Linked DNA regions of Homo sapiens. The protein of the gene in region 1 interacts with the protein of each later gene in a biochemical or structural test. Each region holds a gene or a part of one and is shown in the gene's direction. Other genes may lie near its edges.

What was found. The genes of interacting proteins can lie anywhere in the genome.
Region 2: the proteins of NXF1 (region 1) and NUP214 form a complex in vitro, tested with the Homo sapiens proteins (4 studies listed by BioGRID and IntAct).
Region 3: the proteins of NXF1 (region 1) and NUP98 form a complex in vitro, tested with the Homo sapiens proteins (5 studies listed by BioGRID and IntAct).

The regions. Positions count from the first base shown.
Region 1 is NC_000011.10:62,791,624-62,795,468, reverse strand, and holds the end of NXF1 (nuclear RNA export factor 1), read left to right. Parts: intron 1-461; coding exon 462-534; intron 535-1,028; coding exon 1,029-1,211; intron 1,212-2,697; exon of another isoform or gene 2,698-2,767; coding exon 2,768-2,828; intron 2,829-2,954; coding exon 2,955-2,993; 3' UTR 2,994-3,339; downstream 3,340-3,845. Other genes in the region: TMEM223 (transmembrane protein 223), read left to right, coding at 3,475-3,790.
Region 2 is NC_000009.12:131,226,564-131,233,597, forward strand, and holds part of NUP214 (nuclear pore complex protein Nup214), read left to right. Parts: intron 1-1,596; coding exon 1,597-1,768; intron 1,769-4,066; coding exon 4,067-4,206; intron 4,207-5,720; coding exon 5,721-5,745; intron 5,746-6,890; coding exon 6,891-6,924; 3' UTR 6,925-7,034. UniProt on the Homo sapiens protein: Part of the nuclear pore complex. Has a critical role in nucleocytoplasmic transport.
Region 3 is NC_000011.10:3,696,543-3,703,576, reverse strand, and holds part of NUP98 (nuclear pore complex protein Nup98-Nup96 isoform 1 precursor), read left to right. Parts: intron 1-684; coding exon 685-1,114; intron 1,115-2,737; coding exon 2,738-2,967; intron 2,968-4,228; coding exon 4,229-4,495; intron 4,496-7,034. UniProt on the Homo sapiens protein: Plays a role in the nuclear pore complex (NPC) assembly and/or maintenance. NUP98 and NUP96 are involved in the bidirectional transport across the NPC. May anchor NUP153 and TPR to the NPC.

The DNA.
Region 1 (3,845 bases):
GAGTCACACTCTATCACCAGGCTGGAGTGCAGTGGCGCAATCTTGGCTCACTGCAACCTCCGTCTCCTGGGTTCAAGTGGTTCTCCTGCTTCAGCCTCCCGAGTAGCTGGGACTACAGGTGCGCACTACCACGCCCAGCTAATTTTTGTATTTTTAGTAGAGAAGGGGTTTCGCCATGTTGGACAGGATGGTCTCGATCTCTTGACCTCGTGATCTGCCCACCTCAGCCTCCCAAAGTGCTGGGATTATACGCATGAGACACTGTGCCCGGCCGTAGTTATTACTATTGTCCTTTCTGACCTGACCCTTCACCCCACCTGTGCTTCCCTTATACCCTTATATACTTAATCATTCCTCTCTGACTTGCTAGGATTCTTTATATCAAAGACCATGATTCAAGAAGCTGTTTGTAAACATAAAGCACTAGTGACCCTAAGGTGTTGTTGCTGTTCTTATTGCAGTGGACGGAAAGTCCCGGGATTCTTTGCGAGCCTTCACCCGGACATTCATTGCTGTTCCTGCTAGCAATTCAGGGTAAGTATTCTGCTTTTCGCATTGGATACCAGTCCTAATCCATGGCCAACAGTGTGGTAATTGGAGGGTAGAGTCAGTCTTTGGGGTGATTTCAGAAAGGCAACAGGAAATCAGAGAAAGCTCACATAGTAGTTAAGAGCCAGTTAATAGCTTGGCTCTGGAATTGTACCGTCTGGGTTTTCATCCTGGCTCCACCACTTCTAGCAAGTAGGCTGCTGCCTCATCTGAAAATTCATATAACAATATTCATTTCCTAAGTTTGTTGTGAGGATGAATTAAAAGAGCTAAAGTCCATGCGTTGGGAGAACCCTAGTGTGTTTAGTAGATAATCCTTCCAAACATTGATTCCATGGGAGGGGATAAATGATAAAAGGTAACAATAGCTAAGAGTGGGAGGGGGACCTTGTGGATATTGAAAGAATCAGAGAATAGGAATGATGTTGGGAGGATGATGTTATCTCTGTCTAGCTTTTTAAGTGCTCTTTGTCCTCAAGGCTATGTATTGTAAATGATGAGCTATTTGTGCGGAATGCCAGTTCTGAAGAGATCCAAAGAGCCTTCGCTATGCCTGCACCCACGCCTTCCTCCAGCCCGGTGCCCACCCTCTCTCCAGAGCAGCAGGAAATGTTGCAAGCATTCTCTACCCAGTCTGGCATGAACCTCGAGTGGTCCCAGAAGTGAGTGCGGGGCATGTGTAGGATGGGGATGCACTGAAGTAGGGCTAGTAGTAAATAATGAGGGCTCCTGACAGTTTTTTTGTTTTTTTTTTGGAGACAAGTTCTTGCGCTGTCATCCAGGCTGGAGTATAGTGGTGATCATAACTCACTGTAGCCTCTAATTCCTGGGCACAAGCTGTCCTCCCACCTCAGCCTCCAGAGTAGCTGGGCCTATAGGCATGTGCCACCTTATTTTATTTTATTATTTTTTTTTTTTGGAGGTGGAGTCTTGCTATGTTGCCCAGGCTGGAGTGCAGTGGTGCGATCTTGGCTCATTGTAACCTCTGCCTCCCGGGTTCAAGCAATTCTCCAATCTCAGCCTCCCGAGTAGCTGGGATTACAGGCACACACCACCATGCCTGGCTAATTTTTGTATTTTTTTTTTTTTTTTTTTTTTTTAGTAGAGACGGGCTTTCATCATGTTGGCCAGGCTGGTCTCGAACTCCTGACCTTGTGATCTGCCTACCTCGGCCTCCCAAAGTGCTGGGATTACAGGCATGAGGCACTGCACCCAGCCAAATTTTTATTTGCTTGTTTGTTTTGAGACAGGGTCTCACTCTGATGCCCAGGCTGGAGTACAGTGGTGTGATCACAGTTCACTGCAGCCTCAACTGCTAGGGCTCAGGTGATTCTCCCACCTCAGCCACCTGAGTAGCTGGGACTACAGGCATAGGCCACAGCACCTGGCTAATTTTTTTGTATTTCTTTGCAGAGATGGGGTTTCACCATGTTGCCCACCTAGGCCTCCCAAAGTGCTGCGGTTATAGGTGTGAGTTACTGTGCCTGGGCTCCTGAAATTTTAAAAGGCAAAACTTTTGGCTGCTTAAAAAAACCTAATAGTTGGCTGGGAGAGGTGGCTCACACCTGTAATCCCAGCACTTTGGGAGGCTGAGGCGGCCAGATCACGAGGTCAAGAGATCAAGACCATCCTGGACAACATGGTGAAATCTCGTCTCTACTAAAAATACAAAAATTAGCGGGGCTTGGCGTTCCACGCCTGTAGTCCCAACTACTCGGGAGGCTGAGGCAGGAGAATTGCTTGAACCTGGAAGGCGGAGGTTGCAGTGAGCCGAGATCACGCCACTGCACTCCAGCCTGGTGACAGAGCAAGACTCGGTCTCAAAAAAAAAAAAAAAGCAAACAGAAAAACACAAACCTGATAGTCTATAAAAAATTTGCCTGTGTATAAATTAACATAAAAAACTTTAAAGGTAAAATGGAAGTTCCTTTTCATATACTGTTCTGCAACTTAGTTTCTTTACTTACACCATGAACATCTTTCCCTACCACTGTAAAAACTATCTTGAGCTTCTTGACAGCTATTTAATATTCCTTATCTTTGAGAAGCCATTGGTAGAACATCTGGACTTTTACTAATGTCTCATTTGTATAAATAGTGCAAGGATGTATAAGAATGTACATATTTGTTGGCAAACTTGGGTGCTTTTATGGAGTGGACTTTCAGCTGGCATTTACGAGTCAGAGTTCTTACAGAGCTGCCTGTTCTTCCACTCCAGGTGCCTTCAGGACAACAACTGGGACTACACCAGATCTGCCCAGGCCTTCACTCATCTCAAGGTAAGGTCTGGAAATACAGTGGCAAAAAGACTAGGATCTCTGGGCCTCCAGGAGGTCAGGTTAGCTGAGTGGGGTTGCTGAGTGGCGAGGGTAGGCCTACCTCTACTGACCTTCATTTTTCTCCAGGCCAAGGGCGAGATCCCAGAAGTGGCATTCATGAAGTGATCGTAGTCATGCCTCAGAAGCAGTCCCCCCTGTAAATAGTCCTTGGATATTACCGTCTGGTTGTCGTCTGTCATCTCCTCCTGTCTGGCCCGAGGCCGCCCCGTGACTGTGACCGAGGGAGGGAGGGCTGCCTGATCCCTCTCCTCGCCTGCCTTCTGGAAGACTTCAGAAGATTGAGCCTCACTGGTGCCAGGAAGCCAAAGCTTACTTTGTAGAACTGACACTAAACTACCCGAAGGACTTAGGTGCTTTGTGTACTTAACCCCAGGACCTCCTTACTTTTTAATATAAAGAGTGATGTTGTATTTCGTGTTCTGCACTTTTTAATATAAAGAGTGATGTTGTATTTCGTGTTCTGCGTGCTGGATTGGTTGTCTCCTCCCAGCCCTGAGCGAGGGGGGCGGGCCCTCTAGCGGGGGCGCCCAGGGAGGGCGGAAGGCGGCTCTGCGGCAGGAAGCCCCACCCCGGAAGTCGGCTGGCCATGGCGGCGCCTTGGAGGCGATGGCCCACGGGGCTGCTAGCCGTGCTGCGGCCCCTGCTCACCTGCCGGCCCCTGCAAGGCACGACGCTGCAACGGGATGTGCTGCTCTTTGAGCATGATCGGGGCCGCTTCTTCACCATCCTCGGGCTGTTCTGCGCGGGCCAGGGCGTCTTCTGGGCTTCCATGGCTGTGGCAGCCGTGTCCCGGCCCCCGGTTCCGGTGCAGCCTCTGGATGCGGAGGTCCCAAATCGTGGCCCCTTCGACCTGCGCTCCGCGCTCTGGCGCTACGGTCTGGCCGTCGGCTGCGGCGCCATCGGTAAGACGTGGGCTGGCTTCCCACTGTGACAACGTGGGGTGGCGGGACACGACCT
Region 2 (7,034 bases), on another chromosome or scaffold:
GAAAGTGTAACTAGATCTGTGATCAGTCTTAAATAATTCAACTGTAAGGGTTTTTTAGCACTTTTTTTTTTCCAGTCTGTTATATTTATAACCCAACAGTCTCCATTATCATGGCTTGGAATTTCACTCAGTGTTTTAACATGCGGAATGTTAACCCAAACACGAGCCTTAGCAAAAAAGTATCTTCTCAGTTGTGCAGCCTACCACTGTTAATGGCAAATAGGCACATGAGTGAATCACAAAATAACAGTTAACTGAGGGATTCAGCTGACAACTTTTCATACCCAGGATTTGATCTTTCCTGATTCAGATGGCAGAAGCTTGTGTTGTGATTACATAAACAATAAGAAGTCTGGATTTCATCCCTCTAACAACAGATTGACTTTCTGAAAGGGGAGAAAAGGCTTGTCGCTAGGCCACCATTACTCCCGCTAGCACGCAGTTCATAGGCCAACACTCACCTTAAGAAGTACTCCCTTTAGAGGGTGCTCCCAGTTAGAGCACATTTCTTATGCCATTCTATTCCATTCATTCAAGAAGACACTCACTGAGTGTCTATTCTAATACTTTAGAATGATTTCAGCAGTATCTTGGAAGTTTGGGAACCCGCATCAGGAATAGCTCAGGAGAGGATGTTTTGTCTTCCTGCCTGACAGGCATCACCAGCAATCAGAGTAGGGTGCCCTGTGCGTGACCTGACCCTTGTCTGTGTGGCCACCTGTGTGGTGCTGCCCTCTGGCAGCCTGAGCCCACTGGGCAGCAGTGTTGGCAACGTTGCAGAAGGCATCTGAACTCTAGGGCTGTCCTCACTGTTGACTTATTATTTTATTAGATTTATGCAGCAGCCTGCCTCCAAAGAAGAAATTTGGTGTGTTTTTTCATTGGGAAGTAATTCCAGACTGCAGGAAAAAAGCATTTAAAAAAAAAAAAACAAACCTCCACTGAGCGAGAGAAAGGGAGACTCTGATGAGAGACGTAGGAGCCATCAGGCTGTAAATAAATAAAAAGCACCTGGCTGGGCGCCAGCATACACGTCTCTGTCTCTGCTATGACCCAATTCAGGGATTCTCCCTGAGAGGAGGTTTTGAGCCTCTGATTTTATAATTTGGGTTTCTATGAAGCTGGATGTCTTGCCTGTGTACTGATAAGTAATATAGTCTGTCATCTTTTGTCAGCTAGGTAGGGATTGGAGTTTTTGAGAATGGTTTTTCACTCCAAACAGCTCAGAGGACCTGGGAGGGGTGGAAGGTGCACCGAGTGGGCTCTTGGAGGTCTGCTCACACGGCTTCACAGTGACTTCACAGGGTCTGCAGGAGCTCTCCTGAGTGGACCCCAGAGCCCTCTGCTAGGAATGGAGGGGAGTGGTTTGGTTTGAGGGCTTTTGTTTTGTTGTTTTCATTACTATTTTCTTGATAGAAGGGCGGGGGGGAGGGGGGGTGTTGCCCTTTACTCTAGTTCTTGCATTTGAATTGCTAACATCCTCTTTTCCCTTTTTTCTTCCTATTTTGATTTGGTTTCTCATTGCTCAATGTCTTCTCTTCCTGTCTCCTCCTTTCTTTCTCCCTATTTCTGTTTGTTTGCCTCTGTTTTGCTCAGGTGGCTTCGGTGCTGCTCCAGTGTTTGGCAGCCCTCCTACTTTTGGGGGATCCCCTGGGTTTGGAGGGGTGCCAGCATTCGGTTCAGCCCCAGCCTTTACAAGCCCTCTGGGCTCGACGGGAGGCAAAGTGTTCGGAGAGGGCACTGCAGCTGCCAGCGCAGGAGGATTCGGGTAAGCCCCCTGGGGAGGGCCCTTGGGAACCCACACGCCAGCCAAAAAGCACTAGGGGCCTGTACTCTTGCTCTGAAAAGAAATTTGACCATGAGGTGAAGGCCCCTCCCTTGAAATTTGTGAACAACTCCCTCAAGGATTCCTGTACCTCTCCAGGGTAAGACTCATTTCGTTCAAGCCAGGCTTTGTTGAATTCATGGTGGACCTCAGCTGTGTTGCTGTTCCCTGGTATGAGAAATGCTGGTCATCAGAGCCCCTGTTCTCCTGCTGGGGCTAAAGGAAGGCACCAGCCCTGCCTTAACTACTGCTTTGTAGCCAAGAGGTGCCCCGGTGTGGAGCTTCTGTTAGGAAGTCCTCAATGAATGGTTTTCACCAGATTCTTTCCTCTTGGGATTATTCTGTGTTAGACCCGTTGTCCTTGAACAAACAACTCCCTGTGTCCCCTGCTCCCCTGCAGCCCCCCAGAGTGAGTATTCAGTTGCACAGGTCCTCCCGTGGGAAGATCCTGGATGATCAGGGATTTCGAAGCTGCTCTCATTGCCTCGTGTGCGTCTGCACTGGAAAAGGCCATTTTTAGGGAGTCGCTTTTAAGGGCAGAATTTCAGTGTGGTTGCCAAAACCCCAAGGGAAAAAAACCTTCACCACACCACAACATCCCAATTTAAAAAATGTACACGGGATGACTACCAAGTCTCTTGTTCAAAGGAGGTGTCGATGCCTGAAAGGAGTTCTAAAACGCCTCTTGCCGCAGTACTGGGCTCAGCATGAGCTGAAGGTTTGGGGGAGGGGAGATGATTTTGTCTAGGGGAATTGTTGAGATACTTGGATCTGAGTCTTGGCAAGATGACAGCATCTTTATCTTGAAAATAAACTATAGTATGTTCTTACTCACACCCTTCCCCTCCGTGCAAGATGCTGGAGCGCAGCAGCAGGAGTGAGAGGGTTGGCGTGCTGCTTCTCCTGTTTCACGGGAGACTGATGCCTTAGGTTTGCCCTCAGGAAACCCCAAGAATTAAAGTTAAGGAAAGCTTTGAAAGGACAGTTAGAGACCCACTTAGGCTGGTATTCTCAGAGGTCTTAATGGATGCTGTTCTCTGCAGTGATGAACCAGCACACAGTACCACAGAGTTGGTAGAAGGTTTGGGTTGGCTGGGTATCTTGTGAATTGATTTATTTATTTGAAACCAGCTGTTTTCTTTACTAGTAGAAAAGTATATTCTGCCTTGGGGCGGCTCTCACACAAATCCCGATTGGCTGGTTAGTCAGTCCTAAAAAAGGTTAATGCCAGGTCAGTTATTAAATCTCCATAAGAGCCCATTACCTTCTTCCAGGTCCCTGGCCATGAGCCTGTCTCCGACCCTGAAGGGCAGGCTGTTGCTGATGAGGCCCAAGGCAGGAGGAGGAAGGGAGCAGGCCGCTCCTGGGAGAAAGTCCAATGAGAGCAGATCCCTTGGCCACCTTTGTATGGAAAGAGCCTTGACCTCACCATTAAAAGTGAATAGAATGGTGGGAAGGCAGAGTTTTAGATACTTTTTCTTGCTTTGGGGTTGATTCTTGCCCCCAGGTGCTGCCCCTTCTCCCAGAAACCACTGATCCGTTTCCCTCACCTAGTCACCTCCAGACCCCAGAAGCTCTCCCCAACCCAGCCGAGTTCCTCTGCAAACAATTCAAGGGGCTCTGATAGGTCACACAGTGCCACCTTGTGTGCTGGACCATATCTGGAGGGAGAACTGAGTGAGGGGGCACAGGGGATTGTCTCCAGGTGGGGCGAGCAGGGGAAGGAAAATAGTGGCCACTTTTACATTGGTTTGGGTAGTAATTATTGATTCAGGAAGCAAATACAAAATCCTGAATGAAATGACTTGGAAAAAGTAAATAGAATCAAGATCCCAAGAGGAGCTGAAGATAAATAAATGGGAGCAGGATGTGGGGGAATGGTCGGTAAGTGAGAAATGCTAAAATGATAGAATAAAGCTTAAGGATTGTTGGAGGTAGAGCAGGAACTGTGTACTGCATAGTTCCCAAATGCCCTGGTGTTCCAATGGGGGATGGAAACTAAAACACTGGCCAGGTTGGATTTCATACTGTAGTCCTGCCATTTTTCTTCCTAGAGCAGAGATAAAAGTTGGCCCTGGGCGATAGCTCATTCTCTCTGAAAGGCTGCTAGTTAGGCCCAGCCTGTCACCCTGGATCATGAGTGTCGTGTGTATTGGGACTTACAGCAGGGGGCTGAGGCTTGCAGATGGGCAAGTGGTGAGAGGCCCCACTGACCTCAGTCTGTTTCTCACTGGAGCGCAGGTTTGGGAGCAGCAGCAACACCACATCCTTCGGCACGCTCGCGAGTCAGAATGCCCCCACTTTCGGATCACTGTCCCAACAGACTTCTGGTTTTGGGACCCAGAGTAGCGGATTCTCTGGTTTTGGATCAGGCACAGGAGGTAAGCTGCCACAAGTTCTCCCCTCACAAGCAAAATGGGTCCCTCTTGCCTTCTCCCCCAAAGAAATGAGTATGTTTTACCTGACCAGTCTGTTTAGTATTTTAAAAGCTGACTGGGCACGTGGTTCACGCCTGTAATCCCAGCACTTTGGGAGACCAAGGCAGGAGGATCACTTGAGCCCAGGAGTTTGAGACTAGCCTGGGCAACATGGCAAGACTCCATTCTCTACAAAAAATGTTAAAATTCGCCAGACATGGTGGCACACACCTGTGGTCCCAGCTACTCGGGAGGCTGAAGCAGGAGGATCACTTGAGCGCTGCAGTGAGCTGTGATTGCACCACTGCACTCCAGCCTGGGTGACAGAATGAGACCCTGTCTCAAAATAAATAAATATGTAACATACTGAAAGTGGTTGAAACATATATATATATATATATTTTTGAGACGGAGTCTCGCTCTGTTGCCCAGGATGGAGTGCAGTGGCACAATCTCGGCTCACTATAAACTCCGCCTCCCGGGTTCACGCCATTCTCCTGCCTCAGCCTTTGAGTAGCTGGGTCTACAGGCGCCCGCCACCAGGCCCGGCTAATTTTTTGTGTTTTTAGTAGAGATGGGGTTTCACTGTGTTAGCCAGGATGGTCTCCATCTCCTGACCTCATGATCCACCCACCTCGGCCTCCCAGAGTGCTGGGATTACAGCACCTGGCATATATATTTTTTTTTAGGTTTTAGTTAGACTTAGAACACTGTGTCATTTCTTACCAAAGAAATTACTGTCTTGATTTCCTCTCAGGATTTGAGAAGCCCAAAATAATAATGGTCTTACTAGGCCTTGGTTTAAAAAATCTAAGCCAGCAGACTCAAAAAAAAAAAAAAAGGCATAGAAACTTCACAAAACATCTTGCATTTGTTTAACACTCTGCTTCTTCAGATGGCAGAATATGTGTCTTCCATTTTGTTCTTGCAGTAAACTGACAAGGCACAGAATTTAGGTATCATTACAATTGTACCCGTGAAGAAACAGAAACTCCAAGGAACTAAGTGTTAGCAGTTAGCAGTAGAACCAGGCCTAGAATCCAGCCATCTTGCTTCTCTGGCCCCCAAAAAGAAGAGGAAGCAAATGGATGGAAAAACAACAACAGCAAAAAAAAAAAAAAAAAAAAAAGGTTTTCCTAATGAATGGATCTATGTGGTCCAGTACAGCTGAGAGGCCAAGCCAGAGACCCTCTGCCTACAGCTGGGGCCGAGGAGGGAGGAAGAACCCTAAAATACCAAGAAGATAACTCATAAAAAGTAAAGGATTTTTTCTGCCTTCTGGGGGATCTGAGTAGCTCCAGAGGACAAACTCAGAATAAAGGGGCTTCTGTGTGTACCTTTCCTGCCTTCCTGTAGGTGGTGGAGGCACGGAGGGCTTCCCACAAGAAGCACAGAGGAGGGCAGACACTTAGCATGGGGACCACCTTTGTCTTTCGAGTGGATGCGTGCTTTAACTTCACTCTTATTCTGCTTTTCAGGGTTCAGCTTTGGGTCAAATAACTCGTAAGTATCCCCCTTTTTGAGTCTCACCTTAATTAAAAGCATTAAATAAGGTTGGAAGTGTGTGGATCTTGCTGGATTTGTGCATTTTCTTTTCGTTTTTTCCTGTTTTTAGAGTTTGTCCTGGAAGTGTGGGGGTTCAGCAGCAGGGTTTGGGTTTTGTGGACTTGCTCTTCTCTGTAGCAATATGGCAGGAGGTGCCAGGCCTCGCCTTCTTAAGAGGCGTGGTTCAAAGAGAAAAGAGCACGCCTGCCAGTGAGCTGGGCCTGAGGGCAGCGCTGAGGAGATGCTGCTCCTGACTTCCCTGGAGGTTTCTCAGAAGCTGCATGCTAACCCCTGGGCTCTGGGCCATCACCAGGTCTCATGTGTTGATCCACCCTCTGTGCTTCTGTGTAAAATTTCATGGCGTTAAAATTCAGTCTTAGCCAGGTGGGTGGTTCACGCCTATAATCCCAGCACTTTGGGAGGCTGAGGTGGGAGGATTGCTTGAGCCCAGGAGTCAAGACCAGCCTGGGCAACAGAGTGAGACCCCATCTCTACTAAAAATTAAAAAAATTAGCCGTGCATGCTGGCTTATGCCTGTGGTCCCAGCTACTCCAGAAGCTGAGGCGGGAGGATCACTTGAGCCTGGGAGGTTGAGGCTGCAGTGAGCCAAGATGGTACCACTACCGTCTAGCCTGGGTGACAGCCAGACCCTATATCAAAAGAAAAAAATATATATACTGGCCAAGCACGGTGGCTCACACCTGTAATCCCAGCACTTTGGCAGGCCAAGGTGGGCAGATATTTGAGGTCAGGAGTTCGAGACCAGCCTGGCCAACATGGTGAAACCCCATCTCTACTAAAAATATATATATATACATATATAGATAAACACACAAGAATTAGCCAGGCGTGGTGGTGCATGCCTGTAATCCCAGCCACTGAGGCTGAGGCAAAAGAAGCACTTGAGCCCGAGAGACAGAGGTTGCAGTGAGCTGAGATCACGCCACTGCACTCCAGCCTGGGCAATAGAGTGAGACTCTGTATCAAAAAAATAATAATAAAAAATCTGAGTCCTGACCTTTGCACACAGGCAGAGCAGCAGAGCCTGTGACTGCTCTGTGACAGAGCAGCTGACTCCACCACTGTCCTGTGCTTCCTTGCAGGTCTGTCCAGGGTTTTGGTGGCTGGCGAAGCTGAGGGCGTGTCAGCAGGCCTTTCGATCCCTGGGACCAACCGCATCCTCAGCTTCTTCCCCGAGAAATGCTGGAGCAGGCTGTTCAGACCGACGTTGCCATCAAAACACATAC
Region 3 (7,034 bases), about 59 Mb from region 1:
CTCAGTTTTCTCATATATACAATAGGAATGATAATAATGCTAATCATTTAAAAGTTTTTGAGGCCAAGTGCAGTGGCTCATGCCTGTAATTGCAGCACTCTAGGAGGCTGAGGCAGGTGGATCACGAGGTCAGGAGTTCAAGACCAGCCTGGCCAACATGGTGAAACTCTGTCTCTACTAAAAATACAGAAAAGTTAGCCAGGCATGGTGGCGGGCACCTGTAATCCCAGCTACTCGGGAGGCTGAGGCAGAGAATTGCTTGAACCCAGGAGGCAGAGGTTGCAGTGAGCCAAGATCATGCCACTGCACTCTAGCCTGGGCTACAGGGCGAGACTCTGTCTCCAAAAAAAAAAAAAAAAAGTTTTTGAAGAGTGAAATGAAATAACATATACAAATGACTTATACAGAGCCTGCTGCATATTTTTAAATAATATTAATAGTGTTGTTGCTTTTATTATTGTTGTAGATATCATCATCATCATTAGAATCTTGTCCTGATTTCCTAGTTCAAAGAGTAATTTCTGCAAAATCTGACTTAGCCTGCTTCTGGTCATCCACATCTGATATAAGTAGTTTGATTAAACATTGAATGATTTCAGCCTTACTGATTTTTGTTATTGTTCAAGAAACAATAGCTTGTGTTTTGTAATAGTCTTTCTCCCCTTCATTCCCGCTTCATTTCAGTTGGTGGGTTACTACAATCAAAATTTACAAGTGGAGCTTTTCTTTCACCAAGTGTCTCTGTGCAAGAATGTCGTACTCCCAGAGCAGCATCTTTAATGAATATCCCATCCACATCCTCTTGGTCTGTCCCTCCACCCCTGACTTCTGTGTTCACAATGCCCAGCCCAGCCCCTGAGGTTCCGTTGAAAACAGTGGGTACACGTAGGCAACTAGGCCTAGTCCCTCGTGAAAAGTCTGTCACCTATGGCAAGGGAAAACTCTTGATGGACATGGCCCTATTCATGGGACGCTCATTTCGTGTTGGTTGGGGCCCCAACTGGACTCTTGCTAATAGTGGAGAACAGCTGAATGGCTCTCATGAACTAGAAAATCATCAGATTGCCGATTCCATGGAGTTTGGATTCCTGCCCAATCCAGTAGCTGTTAAACCGTGAGTCACATTTCTTGATGCTTTTTGAGAAAGGCAACATGATAGGTGAAAAAAACTAATCAGGAGGATAGGGCCCTGCTTTGTCATCTTTCTAGAGAGAGAGAGAGAGAGAGAGAGAGAGAGAGAGAGAGAGAGAGAGAGAGAGAGAGTGTGTGTGTGTGTGTGTGTGTGTGTGTGTGTGTCTCAGTTTTGCTCTGTTTCCCCGGTGTGTGTGTGTGTGTTTTTGAGTCTCAGTTTTGCTCTGTTTCCCAGGCTGGGGTGCGGTGGCACGATCTCAGCTTGCTGCAACCTCTGCCTCTCAGTCTGAGGCTCTTCTCCTGCCTCAGCCTCCTGATAAGCTGGGATTACATGCACACGCCACCACACCCAGCTAATGTTTCCTGAGCTCAAGTGATTGTCCTACCTTGGCCTCCCAAAGTGCTGGGATTACAGTCATGAGCCACCTTGCCCAGCCTATCCTTCATTTTTAAAGTTGACTTTGAAAAAATAAAAAACAACCTGTAATCCCAGCACTTTGGGAGGCCAAGATGGGCGGATCACGAGGTCAGGAGATTGAGACCATCCTGGCTAACACGGTGAAACTCTGTCTCTACTAAAAATACAAAAAAAATTAGCTGGGCGTTGTGGCAGGCGCCTGTAGACCCAGCTAGTCAGGAGGCTGAGGCAGGAGAATGGTGTGAACCCGGGAGGCGGAGCTTGCAGTGAGCTGAGATCGCGCCATTGCACTCTAGCCTGGGCAACTGAATGAGACTCAGTCTCAAAAAAAAAAAAGAGAGAAAAGAAAAAGAAAAAACAACAATGTCTCTTGAACCTCACAATTAAGAATACTGATCCTAAACTTAGTTATTCTAGGTTAAGCATTATCTTGTGAATTTTGAAGGTTATTAATATCAATCTTAAAAATTAGATCAAGGGGCCGGGTACGGTGGCTCACACCTGTCATCCCAGCACTTTGGGAGGATCACTTGAGGTCAGGAGTTCGAGACCAGCCTGGCCAACATGGTAAAACCCTGTCTCTACTAAAATTACAAAAATTAGCCCAGGGTGGTGGTGCATGTTTGTAATCCCAGCTACTCAGGAGACTGAGGCAGGAGAATCGCCCTTGAACCCAGGAGGCAGAGGTTGCAGTAAGCCAAGATCACGCTACTGCATTCCAACCTCAGCGACAGTGTGAAACTCCATCTCAAAAAAAAAAAAAAAAAAAAAATTGGAACAAGCCTAGCTTAGCTATATGCTCATTGTAATTTAGAATCAGTTCTTTAGTATCTAGAAGCTTAGCCTCATGACTTTTGATACCCAAGTATAATTTGAGAAACAGGTATCCCACAATAGCTTTTGGCCCTTGAGTTTTAGCCAGTTCTAAATCTGTTAGGATTCTCATGCTTGTTATAACCTGGCCTAAGAAGCCTTTGTGTTCTGAATGCACTGATCAGATGATTTTTTTTCCCCAGTATATAGCAGATAAGTTCAGTATAGTTTAAGAAACAAAATTTCTTTAAAACTACAGTGAAATGTTTGCATTCCGTTTGTAATCATAAAAAGAAACAGTGGTTTGGTTGAAGTAAAAATCCTAGCTTCTGTCTTAGGTTCATTTTCTATTCTATTCCTCATTTGCTCTTGTAGCCTAACTGAGTCCCCATTCAAAGTTCACTTAGAAAAACTCAGTTTGAGACAAAGAAAGCCAGATGAAGACATGAAATTATATCAGACACCTCTGGAGCTCAAATTAAAACACAGCACTGTCCATGTGGATGAACTGTGTCCTCTCATTGTCCCCAATCTGGGAGTTGCTGTCATTCATGACTATGCAGATTGGGTTAAAGAAGCATCAGGAGACTTACCAGAAGCACAAAGTGAGTACACACTATGTTTCTAATGTTTGATGTCCCAATAATAGTGGTGGTAGCGTATGTTCACGGGAGGATGAATTTCCTGGCACCAGTCTAGTAGGTAAATGCCTGTGCTTGTCATTTTCTGAGGTTGAGTTTAACTAAGCAGATTCCCAAGCAAGAAGAAATTGTCACTATGTTCTTGTCACTTTGTTCTTTTACCCATTAATGTACAAATTCTTCCACAAAGAACTGTAGCAAGTCAAATCCTTGGATTTATAAAATTGAATTTCTTACCTAATCCAGAGAACATAGGGAGAGAAATACATTCCTTCTTGCTTTACTTTTTTTTTTTTTTTTTTTTTGAGACGGAGTCTCACTCTGTCACTGTAGCTGGGAGTATAGGCGCGCGCCACCACACCCAGCTAATTTTTGTATTCTTAGTAGAGACAGGGTTTCACCATATTGGCCAGGATTGTCTCGATCTCTTGACCTCGTGATCTGCCTGCCTCGACTTTCCAAAGTGCTGGGATTACAGGCGTGAGCCATCGAGCCCGGCCCCTTCTTGCTTTTCTAAATCCTATCCATTCTTCCATATCCAGCTCAAGTACTGTTGGTCTTCTCAACAGCTTTGTTGTAATTCCTCTTCCTGGCTTCTTTCAAGATTACCTTTCTCATCTATCATGACCATGTTTTTCTGAATCAATACTTTGATAAAGGGGTTATCTAATTTATTAATATTTCAAACAGTAGAAAAATCATTTTGTTTAGCAAATCACGTTTATTGAAAAATGGGCTGTTTTAGAATGTCCTATGCCACACGTTTTGAGATTTGTTTATGTTCCTTCAGTTCTTTGTATTTACTTAATCGTCTCATTGTCTTTTCAAATGTGTAAGTTATTTTACCAGTGCATACTTGTAAGTGGCTTAAATGATAAACAGTACTTTTGTAGATTGATTTTTATAGACAGAATTTGATCAAAGTAGATATCATCTGAGATGACACTAGCCATAATTAGGCTTGGGGAACCTGTTTAACGGTTACATTTGTTATGTAAGTACCACAGAAACATGATATGAGCAAGCATTTATTTATACTATGTACTTCTGGAAATTGTAAGACGAAGTTGAGTGAGGTAGAGACAGATTCAGGGTAATCAGCTTGAGTGGTTGTTTGAGATGTCTATTAATTTATGTATTTTTAACATCACAGTTAGAAGGATGCCCTCTGTGAAGTTGTTGTAAGACTTTGTCTCGTAACATTGTTTTTCTCTTCCTGCCTTAGTTGTGAAGCACTGGAGCCTGACATGGACACTATGTGAAGCCCTATGGGGCCACCTGAAGGAGCTTGACAGCCAGCTAAATGAACCCCGTGAATACATTCAAATTCTGGAGCGAAGAAGAGCTTTCTCCCGCTGGCTATCCTGTACTGCCACACCTCAGATTGAAGAGGAAGTCTCCTTAACCCAAAAAAACAGCCCTGTGGAGGCTGTATTCAGCTACCTCACAGGCAAAAGGATCAGTGAGGCCTGCTCTCTGGCCCAGCAGTCAGGTGGGGAAGGCATATGGTCCTTCTCTGCGCCTCTGTCGCCTTCCTACTCACTGCCTCCTACCGCTCCCCGCTAATTGTGCATTTCCCTTTGGCTTCTAGCCTATGAGTATTAATTGCGGACTTCCCAGAAAGATTGCTGGTTCCCGTGGAATATGTAATATAACATAAAATTTAACTTTTAATCAAGTAAACAATGTTTAAGGTCCTAAACAGAGAATTAGAAGACATAGTGCGGCTGGGCTCAGTGGCTCATGCCTGTAATTCCAGCACTGTGGGAGGCCAAGGTGGGTAGATCACACCCACCTATTCCTATAGAATAGGAACCATGACTTTTTTTTTTTTTTTTTTTTTTTTTTGAGACAGTTTCACTCTTGTTGCCCAGGCTGGAGTACAATGGTGCGATCTCGGCTCACTGCAACCTCCTCCTCCTGGGTTCAAGCGATTCTCTTGCCTCAGCCTCCCAAGTAGCTGAGATTACAGGTGCCTGCTACCACACCTGGCTAATTTTTGTATTTTAGTAGAGACAGGGTTTCACCATGTTGGTCAGGCTGGTCTCGAACTCCTGACCTCAGGTGATCCACCCACCTTGGCCTCCCAAAGTGCTGGAATTACAGGTGTGAGCCACTGCACCCAGCCGAACTATGTCTTCTAATTCTTTTTTTAGGACCTTAAACATTGTTTACTTGATTAAAATTTAAATTTTATATTACATTTGTAATAAAACTAGAAAGCATAGATAAGCTATCAATCAAAATCACCCAAATCCTGTGACTACTACTCACTGCAAACATTTTAATGTGCAATTTGTACTTAATTCTTTACTTTGTAATACATACAAATATGTCCAGACACTGTGACATATGCTTGTGAACTTTTCAAAGGTGATATCCTGCTGTGTATTATATTCTGTTCTTTTCATGTGGCACATTACAAATGCCCTGTAATACAGATAATTATCAAATACTTCTTAGCATTCTTTTATGTATAAATGTACCATAGTAGTAAATTTCTTCCTTCACATTGAGACTTTTTTTAAAACTATAAACAGTACTCTGAATTGCTATAAAATATGTTCTATATCAATTCATTCAAATAAATATATAGAAGTTGAATTTCTGGGTTGAGGTACTCACTGGCTTTTTAAAAGGAATTTATATGCATATATTTACTTCTTTAAGTTCCCTTTCACTAATGAGGCAATTCAGCAAGTACTTAATGACTGCCTAGATATAAATCTTTTTTTTTTTTTTTTTTTTTTTTTAAGACAGAGTCTGTCTGTGTGTTTACCAGACTGCTGGAGTGCAGTGGAACGATCTCAGCTCACTGCAACCTTTACTTCCTGGGTTCAAGCGATTCTCCTGCCTCAGCCTCCTGAGTAGCTGGGATTACAGGTGCCTGCCACCATGCCCAGCTAGTTGTCTTTTTTTTTATTTTTAGTAGAGACAGGGTTTCGCCATGTTGGCCAGGGTGGTCTCAAACTCGTGACTTCCAGTGATCCACCCACTTTGGCCTCCCAAGTGCTGGGATTACAGGCATGAGCCACCGTGCCTGGCCATAAAGTCTTGATAAGAATACAGGATGGCATAGTTCAGCTTAATCTAATATGATCAGATCCTTATTCAAACCTTGATTGTTGGAACCTAATTTATCCAAAGCCAACTAATTGGAGCCATCGACTGGATTTATTTTGAAGAGTTTTGCCACTTTTGGGATTATAAGGAACAAATCACAGGAAAAGCCAGAATCAGTAAGCTATATAAAGGGCTTGTTGCATTCCACTGTCACTACACATTTAGCCTGGTAGCTTCCTGTTTTCTTTTCTTTTTATTTTTTAAATAGAGATGGGGTCTGTATGTTGACCAGGCTGGTCTCAAACTCCTGGCGTCAAGCAGCCCTCCTGCCTCAGCCTCCCAAAGTGCTGGGATTAGAGGCGTGAGCCACCACATCCAGCCTCCGTCTGGTACTATTTATGGTCTTTGTGCATTTGTACAGTGAGAATTTATCTTTGGGATTGATCTTGTATGAACTTATTATGAATCATTAAAAAAAGGTTATGCTCACCAGGACACCAACATGTAGTAGGAGAGGATCTTAAGGCATGCCAGAGTCAGATTCTTAGGGCTGTTGATTCATAAACTCCACTTTCTTCCTGTTTATTTTGACTGTAAGGCTAAACCTCTGGTAAAGGTACTGCCTTTTAGGTTACTAAAAGCTTTTGCTTTACTACTCCCCCCCTTTTTTTTTGTTTTTTGTTTTGTTTTTGTTTTTGTTTTCGAGACAGTCTCGCTCTGTACCCCAGGATGGAGTGCAGTGGCATAATCTTGGCTCACTACAACGTTTGCCTCCTGGGTTCAAGCGATTCTCCTGCCTCAGCCTCCTGAGTAGCTGGGATTACAGGTAACGTGCCACCACACTCGGCTAACTTTTGTATATTTAGTAGAGATGCCGTTTCGTCATGTTGGCCAGGCTGGTCTCGAACTCCTGACCTCAGGTGATCCGCCTGCCTCAGCCTTCCAAAGTGCTGGGATTACAGGCGTGA